3 linked regions of the Homo sapiens genome follow. The protein of the gene in region 1 interacts with the protein of each later gene in a pairwise test. Each region holds a gene or a part of one and is shown on either strand. Other genes may lie near its edges. The genes, in order: UNKL, EXOSC7 and CPSF7.

Region 1 (3,649 bases):
CGAGGAGGTAGCACAACTCCCACCGGAACTCGTGAGGCGTCCTGTCCCAGAGCCGGGGCGCCCACCAGGCACCCACCAGGATGCTCAGCAGAGCCCCCAGCCCACCAGGCACCCACCAGGATGCCCAGCAGAGCCCCCAGCCCTGCGCCTCTCTGGGGTGGTGCTCTAGACAGCAGCTTTCAAATCCCTGAGCTTGGCCAGAAACATATGGACCAGGGGGCTGTCCCTCGGGGCTGGGGGACCTGCATTCCTGGCTGGCACACAGATGAGGTTATATGCAGGGGAGATTTTGATTTGAAAAAAAACGTGGTAAGGCTGGGAGCACTGGCTCACGCCTGTAATCTCAGCACTTTGGGAGGCCGAGGCGGGCAGATCACTTGAGGTCAGGAGTTTGAGGCCAGCCTGGCCAACATGGTGAAACCATGTCTCTGCTAAAAATACAAAAAATTAGCCGGTTGTGGTGGTGGGCGCCTGTAATCCCAGCTACTTGGGAGGCTGAGGCTGGAGAATCTCTTGAACTCGGGGGGTGAAGGTTGCAGTGAGCCAAGATCACGCCACTGCACTCCAGTGTGGGTGACAGAGTGAGACTCCGTTTCAAAAAAAAAAATGTAAAATACACACAACATAAAATGCACCATTTTTAAGTGTACAGTCCAGTGGCATTTAGCACGTCTGCAGTGTTGTGCAGCTGCCACCTCTCTCTAGTTCCAGAACATTCCATCCCTGCAGAAGGAACCCCCCTGCTTATGAGCAGTTCCTCCCCATCCCCTCCCTGGTCCCTGCACTCACTGGCCTGCATCCCATCTCTGTGAATTTGTGTATTCTGGACATTGCGTATGGCAGCGATTTTTTTTTTTTTTTTTTTTTTTTTTTTTTTTTTTTTTGAGATGGAGTCTCGCTCTGTCACCCAGGCTGGAGTGCAGTGGCACAATCTCAGCTCACTGCAACCTCCGCCTGCCAGGTTCAAGCAATTCTCCTGCCTCAGCCTCCTGAGTAGCTGGGATTACAGGCAGGCACCAGTATGCCCGGCTAATTTTTTATTTTTAGTAGAGACGGGGTTTCACTGTGTTGGCCAGGCAAGTCTTGAACTCCTGACCTTGTGATCCACCCACCTCGGCCTCCCAAAGTGCTGGGATAACAGGCGTGAGCCACCACGTCCGGCCCAGTGAATGACTTCTAAAAATAGGCTTTATTTTTTAGAGCGGTTTCCGGTTCACAGCAAAACTGAGTAGAAAAATAGATTTCCCAAACACCCCCTGCCCCCTCAGCCTCCCCTGCCGTGCACCTCCTGCACTGCGAGGTACGCTCTTTACCAACAGTGAACCCACACTGATGTGTGCTTGTCACCCAGAGGCTGTGGTGCGCATGAGGCTCACCATGCGGCATTTCGGGGTGTGCATGTCTCTGGATTTTAGCATATTCTCAAAAGCTGTGCACACATCACCTCTCTCTAGTTGGAGAACATTTTCATCCCCCAGCAAGGAAGCCGCACACCCACAGCAGGACTCCCTCCCAGCCCTGGTGGTCTCGGCTCCACTCCGTCTCTGTGGGTTCCCTAGTTCTGGGCATTTTCACATAAACAGAATCACACCACGTGGCCTTCTGGCCCGGCTTCCCTCATGGAGCGCGAGTCCTTTGACATCAGCGTGTGCCGTGGCGTGTGTCTGCGCTCCCCAAGTCCTCCTGCAGCCCCTTCCATTTGGGGGACAGCCAGGTCCTTCCACCTTTGGTCTCCTCTGCCCAGCATTGCTTCCAGTCGCGCTGCTCAGGCACCGTGTGGCCCATTTTTCAGATGCCAACTTCGTGCTGGGCAGCTACAAGACGGAGCAGTGCCCGAAGCCGCCACGCCTGTGCCGCCAGGGCTATGCGTGCCCACACTACCACAATAGCCGGGACAGGCGGCGCAACCCCCGGCGGTTCCAGTACAGGTGAGCCTGCGGGACCGTGCTCAGAGGACTCCGGCTGGTGGGCGTCCTTCCCGGCCCGTGGCTCGCGTTGCCCACCCCGGGGTTCTAATGGGAGGGCTGCCCTTGTGGCACCATCATCCCCGGGAGGGGAGGGCATCTCCAAGCACAGTGGCTGTGGGAGGTGCCATGGAGGCCCACGCGTCTGTCCTGGGGATGGGCCTCCCCACCTACGCTCAGTGTCTCCCATGCAGTCCCCTACCGGGGCCCCTCTGCCAGGCAAGGGGACGGAGCACTGCAGGAGGGACCCCAAGCCCAGCTGGGACCCCCGTGTGCCCCACCCGTGCCTCTGGTTGCAGCCACGCTCTCCAGCCTGTGGGCTGCATGCTGTCTCCTCACCCAAGCTGCCAGGGGCTCAGGCACTGTCGTCACCTGGGCTCAATCTTGTCTTCACAGCTGGCAGCTGGGACGCCGGGTCCTTAGGCTGAGTCCCAGGGCCAACAACCCAAGGGTCGCCCTGCCCAGGGTGCACACAGGACCTTCCTCCACCGCCTGAGCCCCAGCTGTCCCCTGGGTCTGGCTTGTGGGTTTGGCACCTCGCAGCCTGCTTGCCTCTGAAGCCCCTTTCTCCTCCTTGCTCCAGCCCGGCCTTCTGGTTGTGCCTGGCCTGGCTTGCCTCCTGTCTGCAGTTTGCACCTGAGAGGGGGGTGGGGGGGTGCAGACCCCACAGGGTGTCTGGATGCCTGGGCCATGGCCTTGGCCTCCCTGAGGCCCTGTCTGTGTCCAGCTCTTCCTTTGAGCAGAGAGCCACCCTCGCCTCTTTTGAATGACCTGGTGCTGCCTCGCATGCCCCGGAGAGCACCTGTGCTTCCTTTGGGAAGGACGCCCCACTCCTTGTTGTTATGCCACGTTCAGTCTCCCTCTGAGCAGCTTCCGAGTAAAGGACCTGAACGGCTGTAGAACAAACCACAAATTAGTGTCTGAGATTTTGTCATCGCCCGTCATGGAAAGAAAATAAAAATTATTTTTTCAACAGGCACTTAATGTGTCCCATAAATACAAATCAGTTACAATAAAGCAGCTAGAGATTCCACGAAGAGTAGAGGATTTTGTTTTTTTATGAGACAGAGTCTCACTCTGTGGCCCAGGCTGGAGTGCGGTGGTGCAGTCTCAGCTCACTGCAGTAGGAACATAGGTAATTTGAAATTGGTGCGGAGTTTTAAATTGTGGGATCAAAACTCTCGCTTCCATTTTATAGAAAGTTGGCGAGGAGACAGCCCCGTGCTGTCTGGGCGCCCGGCCTCACTGTCCCCAGGAGGTTCGGCTGCTTCTCCCCTGCGTTCTCCACGTCCGTGAGGGTGGCTCTGACTGAGACTCAAGTTAAATTCTGTGAAGAACAGCCCCGGGGCTCCTGACCCCATCCTGGCACTGGCCGGGCCTGCGTGTCCGTGAGCGCAGAGCTGCGTTGCCTGTCACTCCAGGGCCCCATGCCCGAGGCCCCTCCTGGTGGGAGGCAGACACCCCTGGGCACACGAGGAACCATGTTTTCCTGTGTCCCCCTGACACCTCCTCATCCCCAGGTCCACGCCCTGCCCCAGCGTGAAGCACGGGGGTCGGGGTGGGGGAGCCAAGTCCTCTGTGTCCCCCTGACACCTCCTCATCCCCAGGTCCATGCCCTGCCCCAGCGTGAAGCACGGGGGTCGGGGTGGGGGAGCCAAGTCCTCTGTGTCCCCCTGACACCTCCT
Region 2 (3,649 bases), on another chromosome or scaffold:
TGTTTCCATTACAGTAGCTGGATGGACCACCTCTTCCTTCCTGGCTCCTCCAACCCAGCCTGGAGTGAATTGACTTTATAGGTTAAATGTGTTTTTCAGTACCCAGCTGAAGAAACAGAATGTTGCCAGCACCCCAGAAGCATCCCACACCTTCTGTACCCCCATGCAATTACACTCACTGATGATAACCAGCATCTTAAAAGAATAGATTACTTTTGTACTTGATATAAATGGTATCATATACTATGTTCTGTTTTGTGTCTGCCTCATTCACTAAGCATTGTGTTTTGAGAGATCTGTGTTGCTGCCTTAGTCATAGCTTGCTTTTTGCTGTATGGTGTTCCATTGTGTGACTTTGTCCAGTCTGCTGTTTATCCAGTCTACTGTCCAGTCTGCTGTTGTTTATCAGTCTACTGTTGATGGCCATCTGGTTCATTTCCAGTTTGAGGCTATTACAAATAGGGATGGGCATCATGAACATTTTGTGCATGTCTTTGGTGCACATATTTCTCTATTTCTGTTAGGGAGGAGTGTTCTGGGTTATAGGGTATGGCTATCTTTAGTTACGGTAGATGCTGCCAGTTTCACAAAGTGTTTTACCAGTTAACACTTCCACCAGCAGTGTATGTAAGAGTTCCGGGTTGTTTCACATTTTTGTCAACTCTTGCTTTTTTTTTTTGAGATGGAGTCTCACTCTGTCTCCCAGGCTGGACTGCAGTGGCGTGATCTCAGTTCACTGCAACCTCCACTTCCCAGGTTCAAGCGATTCTCTTACCTCAGCCTCCCAAGTAGCTGGGATTACAGGTGTGCACCACCACACCCAGCTAATTTTTGTATTTTTAGTAGAGATGGGGTTTCACCATCTTGGCCAGGCTGGTCTCGAACTCCTGACCTCAGGTGATCCTCCCGCCTTGGCCTCTGAAAGTACTGGGATTACAGGCATGAGCCACCATGCCTGGCGTTTTTTTTTTTTTGTTTTTTTTTTTAATAGTTATTTTGGTTGTGCCTTGGTATCACAGTGTAGTTTTAATTTGCATTTTTAATAGATATTTAAATTGAGCACCTTTTCTTGGTTTATTGGCTACTCAGACAGCCTCTTTTATGAAGACATCCAAATATATTCTACGTTTGAGTCTTTTGTCCATTTTTCTGTTGGGCTGTCTTTTTTTTGTTTAATAGGAATTCTTTATGTAATCTGTCAGGTAGTATTTTATCTCCCCAGATTATATTTTTAGTTTTTAAATGATGTCTTCTGATATACAGAAGTTCATGATGTTATAATTGAATATGTAACTTTTTTCTCTTTCTGTATCCTGTTCAAGAAATAGTTGTCTACTCCAAGGTCATGCAGATGTTTTTTTCTAAATGCTTTATTGTCTTGTCTTTTATTTTTTATATCTATGGTCTATTTGGTATGGCTTCGTGTGTGTGGTGTGAGGTAGGGATTGAGATTCTTTTTTTTCCATTGGGATATCTGATTGACCCAGCATCATTTTCTAAAAGATGCCTTTCCTCATTGCACTGCGGCGCCTCCTGTGTGCTTTTGACAGGGATGACAGGGATGAGGATGATAAAGAATAGGCATAGCGTGTCTTTCTCTTGTGAGACACAGGGATTCCAACTCCTATTCTCAATCTTAAAAAGAAGTTATTTTTCCTCCTCCAAGTGGGAATTTTACTAGTGCTTCTGCTTCCAGGATACCAAGGGTTCGAGTTTTGGAGGATGAAGAGGGGTCGAAGGACATTGAATTGTCAGATGACCCTTATGACTGCATACGACTAAGTGTGGAGAATGTCCCCTGCATTGTCACTCTGTGCAAGGTATAACTTGTATTTTATGGTTTTTGTCTTCCCTGTGGGTGTGGGTCTCCTCTAATCCCAACCTGCTGAGGTTACTTAATAAGTTAAGAAGTTGTAATACCACACACCATATAGAAGTAGCTTTTACCCAAATCCAATAATTTGGTTATACTAGAAACCACTACCACGAGTAGCTCTTTCTTTTCTTTTTAATTGGAAGATATGATGTGGTCCTGGGAGCCATGAGTGTGTTTGTAGTAATAGTAGCCAGAGTTTGTTAAGCTCCTTCCACATACCATGTGCTTCACTAAAGCACCATGTCTTTTAATTACCTCAACTCTATGGGGTCTAGGGTGGTTGAGTAGTGGCAGGGTGGCGAACACTGTCCCCCCTATGAAATGGGAGGTTGGAGCAGGTCTTGGGTATCATGAGTGGTTTTCACATAGAGGGCTGTGGAGCTGAACATCAGGCTGATGTGATATATAACTAATGCTGCCCCAGGCTGTGCAAAGAGGCCTGTATTGGCTATTGACTGGGATTGTAGCTAATTCCACTCAGGATTCATTATCTCAAAATAAAGCTAAACAGGTCAGGTTTAATTCCACTGAAATCACTTCATGAACAGGATGTGGTGAAGTGTTCAGACAACAGGATGGCAGGATGTTGGGTCTTGGCTTTTTTTTTTTTTTTTTTTTTTTTTTTTTGAGACAGTCTTGCTGCAACGCCCAGGCTGGAGTGCAATGGCGCGATCTCAGCTCACTGCAACCTCCGCCTCCCAGGTTCAAGCAATTCTTCTGCCTCAGCCTCCCAAATAGCTGGGATTACAGGCACGTGCCATCATGCCTGGCTAATTTTTGTATTTTTAGTAGAGACGGTGTTTCACCATGTTGGCCAGGCTGGTCTCAAACTCCTGACCTCGGGTGATCTGCCCACCTCAGCCTCCCAAAGTGCCGGGATTACAGGCATAAGCCACCGCACCTAGCCGGCTTGTTCTTTCTTGTTGTTTATTTGTTTTTTTTTTTTTTTTTTTTTTTGAGACAGAGTCTCGCTCTGTCGCCCAGGCCGGACTGCGGACTGCAGTGGTGCAATCTCGGCTCACTGTAAGCTCCGCTTCCTGGGTTCACGCCATTCTCCTGCCTCAGCCTCCCGAGTAGCTGGGACTACAGGCGCCCGCCACCGCGCCTGGCTAATTTTTTGTATTTTTAGTAGAGACGGGGTTTCACCTTGTTAGCCAGGATGGTCTCGATCTCCTGACCTCATGATCTGCCCGCCTCGGCCTCCCAAAGTGCTGGGATTACAGGCGTGAGCCACCGCGCCCGGCCTTGTTTTGAGACAGTGTTGCTCTGTTGCCCAGGCTGGAGTGCAGTAGCACAATCTAGGCTCACTGCAACCTCTGCTGCAACCCCCCCACCCGCCCCGGCTCAACCTCAAGCAACCCTTCCACCTCAGCCTCCCAAGTAGCTGGTACCACAGGCTCACACCACCATATCTGGCTATTTTTTTGTATTTTTGGTGGAGACAGGGTCTTGCCATGTTGCCTGGGCTGGTCTCAAACTCCTGAGCTCAAGCATTCCATTTTCCTCAGCTTCCCAAAGTGCTGGGAGGCATGAGCCGCTGCGCCCAGCCTTTGGCTTGTTCTTGAGTGTGTCCCTTAGCATGGACCCTCTTGATTCCCCCTTGCCATCAGTGAAACGTCCATGTGGCCTTGTGTGTGAATTTCTCCCTTGTGCCCCTCTGTTGGAAAGCCTTGGTGGCCTTTGTCTTGGTTGGTCTCTGAATTCTAGTTTTAAACCACCTTGCCCTGTTTTTCCATATCGTGTTTTTATTGTACCACCCACACAGTGGCCTGT
Region 3 (3,649 bases), on another chromosome or scaffold:
ACAAGGTTGTTTATTTTGTTGTTGTGTTTTTTGTTTTGTTTTGTTTTGAGACAGAGTCTCACTCTTGCCCAGGCTGGAGTGCAGTGGCGCAATCTCGGCTCACTGCAAACTCCACCTCCCGGGTTCAAGCAATTCTCTGCCTCAGCCTCCCGAGTAGCTGGGATTACAAGCGCCCACCACCACGCCCGGCTAATTTTTGTATTTTCAGTAGAGACGGGGTTTCATCATCTCGGCCAGGCTGGTCTTGAACTCCTGACCTCGTGATCCACCTGACTCGGCCTCCCAAAGTGCTGGGATTACAGGCGTGAGCCACCGCACCCGGCTGTTTTTTTGTTTTGTTTTGTTTTGTTTTTGTTTTTGTTTTTTTAATAGACACATTGTCTCACTCTGTCACCCAGGCTGGAGTGCACTGTCATGAGGCACCATCATGGCTCTGTAACATCAACCTCCTGGGCTCAGGTGATCCTCCTGCCTCAGCCTCCTGAGGGCTAATTTTTAAATTTTTTGTAGAGTCTTGCTTTGTTGCCCAGGCTGGTCTTGAACTCCTGGCCTCAAGTGATCCCCCTGCCTCAGCCTCCCAATGTGCTGTGGGATTATGGGCATGAAGCCACTGCGACTGGCTGTAATTTTCTTTTGAAGCAAAATGAAAGCAGGAAGGTTGGGATAAAAACTCTTAAGTAATGGAGAAGTTCAGTTAAGATTGGTTGGATCCAGGGGCTCTGGCTGTGTCATCCAGACTTTATCTGCATCTCTCAGCTCTGCTTTTCTCTGTTGCTTTCATTCTTAGACAGGCTCCATATTGGTAGGGAGTCAGAGGGGGTGCTGTGTCTTTAGGTTGCATCCTACCAGCTTAGCAATCCCAACTGAAGGAAAACTTCTGGAAAGATTGTTTCTATTATATAAGCATATAGGAGCAGGTGTTGTCTCTGCTTCTATGGAAATCTTTAAAATAGGCCAGAGTGGCTAGGGGTCTGTCTGTAGTTCTTGGAGGCTACTGCGTGACCCAGGTAACTTCAGGGTCCTTTCTTAATTTTGTGGTTGCAGATTTATAAGTCTCTAGGACTTCCCATTTCTCTGTCTCACATCAAGTACATTAGGAAGATGTCCTTGGCCGAGCACGGTGGCTCACACCTGAAATCCCAGCACTTTGGGAGGCCAAGGTGGGTGGATCACGAGGTCAGGAGATTGAGACCGTCCTGGCTAACATGGTGAAACCCCGTCTCTATCCCGACCGAGACCATCCTGGCTAACACGGTGAAACCCCATCTCTACTAAAAATACACACAAAAAAATTAGCCGGGCATGGTGGCAGGTGCCTGTAGTCCCAGCTACTCAGGAGGCTGAGGCAGGAGAATGGCATGAACCCGGGAGGCAGAGCTTGCAGTGAGCCGAGATCGCGCCACTGTACTCCAGCCTGGGCGACAGAGTGAGACTCTGTCTCAAAAAAAAAAAAAAAAAGATGTCCTTGATTATTTGCCTGCTTGATCTAAAGTAATGGTAATTGAAAAGGAAGGTGAGGGGAAAGAATAGTAGTTCTTTTTGGTGTCTTTGGGATGGCGATATCTGGATGAAGAAGGACAAAGAAACTCACCACCTGTGAGCCCCTATAGTTCATGAGCAGTAGCTGGAATGTAAATAGTTGGAAAATTAGCAGTATTTTGCCCAGTGACAACCTACTAAAAACCAAAATACTCCTTTTAGGTTTGGCTACTGCCCTCTGTCTTGTTCTTTGGCCATTAGCTTAAATAGATTTATAGCCAGGAATTGTTTTTATCTTCTCCCAAACAAGTAAGTGGAAAGATGAAAAATTACTAATATTTTTTGTCTCTGTTCTCTGTTGTTAGCCACTCATTTATTCCACAAAATCCTAGAGTGCTTAACATCATTGAAATCTAGGTTAACTCATGTAGAATCAACAGTTAGGCTGTGGGCTCCAGGTACTTCTTTCTAGATTTTGCAACAGGTTGAGTTTGGGGAGATGCCCATGTATCCTCTGGAAAAGCAGACGCTATTGTAGATGGAGACCACAAACAACTTTGGCCTAATTCAGTCTCAGGTGGGCATGAGGGCAGGCATTAGAGTTGGTCTTGGTCCAGTCCTAACTCCCTTTTCTTGTTTGAGTCTGCACAGTTGCTAGTGTTACTTGTGGGTTGAAAAGCACATGTAGGCTACAGTGTATGTCTTTTGGAGCTGACTGGGATAAGAGTGAACAGGAAGGTGATGATTGACCTGTGCAGAGCATGCACTGTCGTCTTTGGGGCTGCATTCAGTTTAGTAGTTAGAACATAAATGCATGTCACCATTCCTGATGGCTTTGCTCCTGACAGCCTTATGACAGGGAAATTACCAGCGAGATCCACTGATCCAGCAGTAGTTTGAGAATTAAACATCTCAACCTGAGTCTTTAGCTGTCACTTTGCATTATTTCTTCCACTTATAAAATGGGGCCAGGCACAGTGGCTCATGCCTGTAACTTCAACACTTTGGGAGGCCGAGAGGGGCAGATCGCTTGAGCTCAGGGACCAGCCTGAGGAACATGGCAAAACACTCGTCTCTACCAGAGATACAAAACTAGCTGGGCATGGTGATGTGCTCCTGTAGTCCCAGCTACTTGGGGGTGCTGAGGCAGGAGGAGTCCCAGCTACTTGGGGGCACTTAGGTGGGAGGATCACTTGAGCCCGGGAGATAGAGGCTGCAGTGAGCCATGTTTGTGCCACTGCACTCCAGCCTGGGCAATAGAGCAAGACCCTGTCTCAAAAAAAATAGTAATAAAAATAAAATAAGATGAGACTATTTCTCCCATTATGAGGATAACTCTCTTTTGGTAACTTTGAAAATGCTGTAACAATATTGCCTAGAAAACAGTCATTTGACTTGTGTAGGCCCATGACAAGATGGGAAAAATTAACTCTGAGGCAGGTTTTCTACTTCCTCACTTTTCCTGGTCACCCGTTTGATATAGTGGTTATTGCATCTGAATAATAGTCTGAAAGAACTGAATCAGGCACCCCAAGAATGTCAATTTCTTACATTCTCACCCTAAGGACTCTTAATTCCATCTGTAGTGACCAAGTTATGGCTTAGGAAGTTTCATGTTGGGAAGATGGTACATGGTCCTCATTTATAGCAACCTTTTAGTTAGAAATGAATCATATTTATATTCTATGATGACAGCTGTTCCCTGAGAGTGAAAGGTACATTTTGTCCAGAGGCAGCAATAGAACAGTAGCCTTCTTTGTCCATCTTTTCTCGGCGTAAGACCCAGTTCTGGGGCCTGAAGGCTAATTGGCCCACTTGAAGGAATCTCTGATTTCTGCCTGCATTCCAACATTGGCACCAAAATGTAGCCATGGAGATTTAAGAATTCAGTGCTATGGCTTGCTTCTCTTGGTGTACAAGTTATCCTCTGCAACCTGTGTCTTCAACTTTTTGTAGTTCTCAACTATGTCAGTTATCTCATTATTTTAGGACATTATCCTACTTGAAATATAGTCATTCTCACGTCATTCCTGTCCTCGTTATCCATTGAAAACTGAGCTTTCTCTTCAATTTGGATCGAATTCAAAGATTCAGAAGCCCTAATGGTATGTAATTGAGTGCACTGAGGGCTTCAGTTTTCCCTTAGAGAAAATGGGACAAATACCAGCCT

Evidence for each region.
Region 2: the proteins of UNKL (region 1) and EXOSC7 interact in a two-hybrid assay, tested with the Homo sapiens proteins (one large-scale study listed by BioGRID).
Region 3: the proteins of UNKL (region 1) and CPSF7 interact in a two-hybrid assay, tested with the Homo sapiens proteins (one large-scale study listed by BioGRID).

The regions. Positions count from the first base shown.
Region 1 is NC_000016.10:1,397,653-1,401,301, reverse strand, and holds part of UNKL (putative E3 ubiquitin-protein ligase UNKL), read left to right. Parts: intron 1-1,792; coding exon 1,793-1,928; intron 1,929-2,360; coding exon of another isoform or gene 2,361-2,460; exon of another isoform or gene 2,461-3,001; intron 3,002-3,162; coding exon of another isoform or gene 3,163-3,222; intron 3,223-3,649. UniProt on the Homo sapiens protein: May participate in a protein complex showing an E3 ligase activity regulated by RAC1. Ubiquitination is directed towards itself and possibly other substrates, such as SMARCD2/BAF60b. Intrinsic E3 ligase activity has not been proven.
Region 2 is NC_000003.12:45,003,595-45,007,243, forward strand, and holds part of EXOSC7 (exosome complex component RRP42), read left to right. Parts: intron 1-1,696; coding exon 1,697-1,820; intron 1,821-3,649. UniProt on the Homo sapiens protein: Non-catalytic component of the RNA exosome complex which has 3'->5' exoribonuclease activity and participates in a multitude of cellular RNA processing and degradation events.
Region 3 is NC_000011.10:61,405,867-61,409,515, reverse strand, and holds part of CPSF7 (cleavage and polyadenylation specificity factor subunit 7), read left to right. Parts: intron 1-3,649.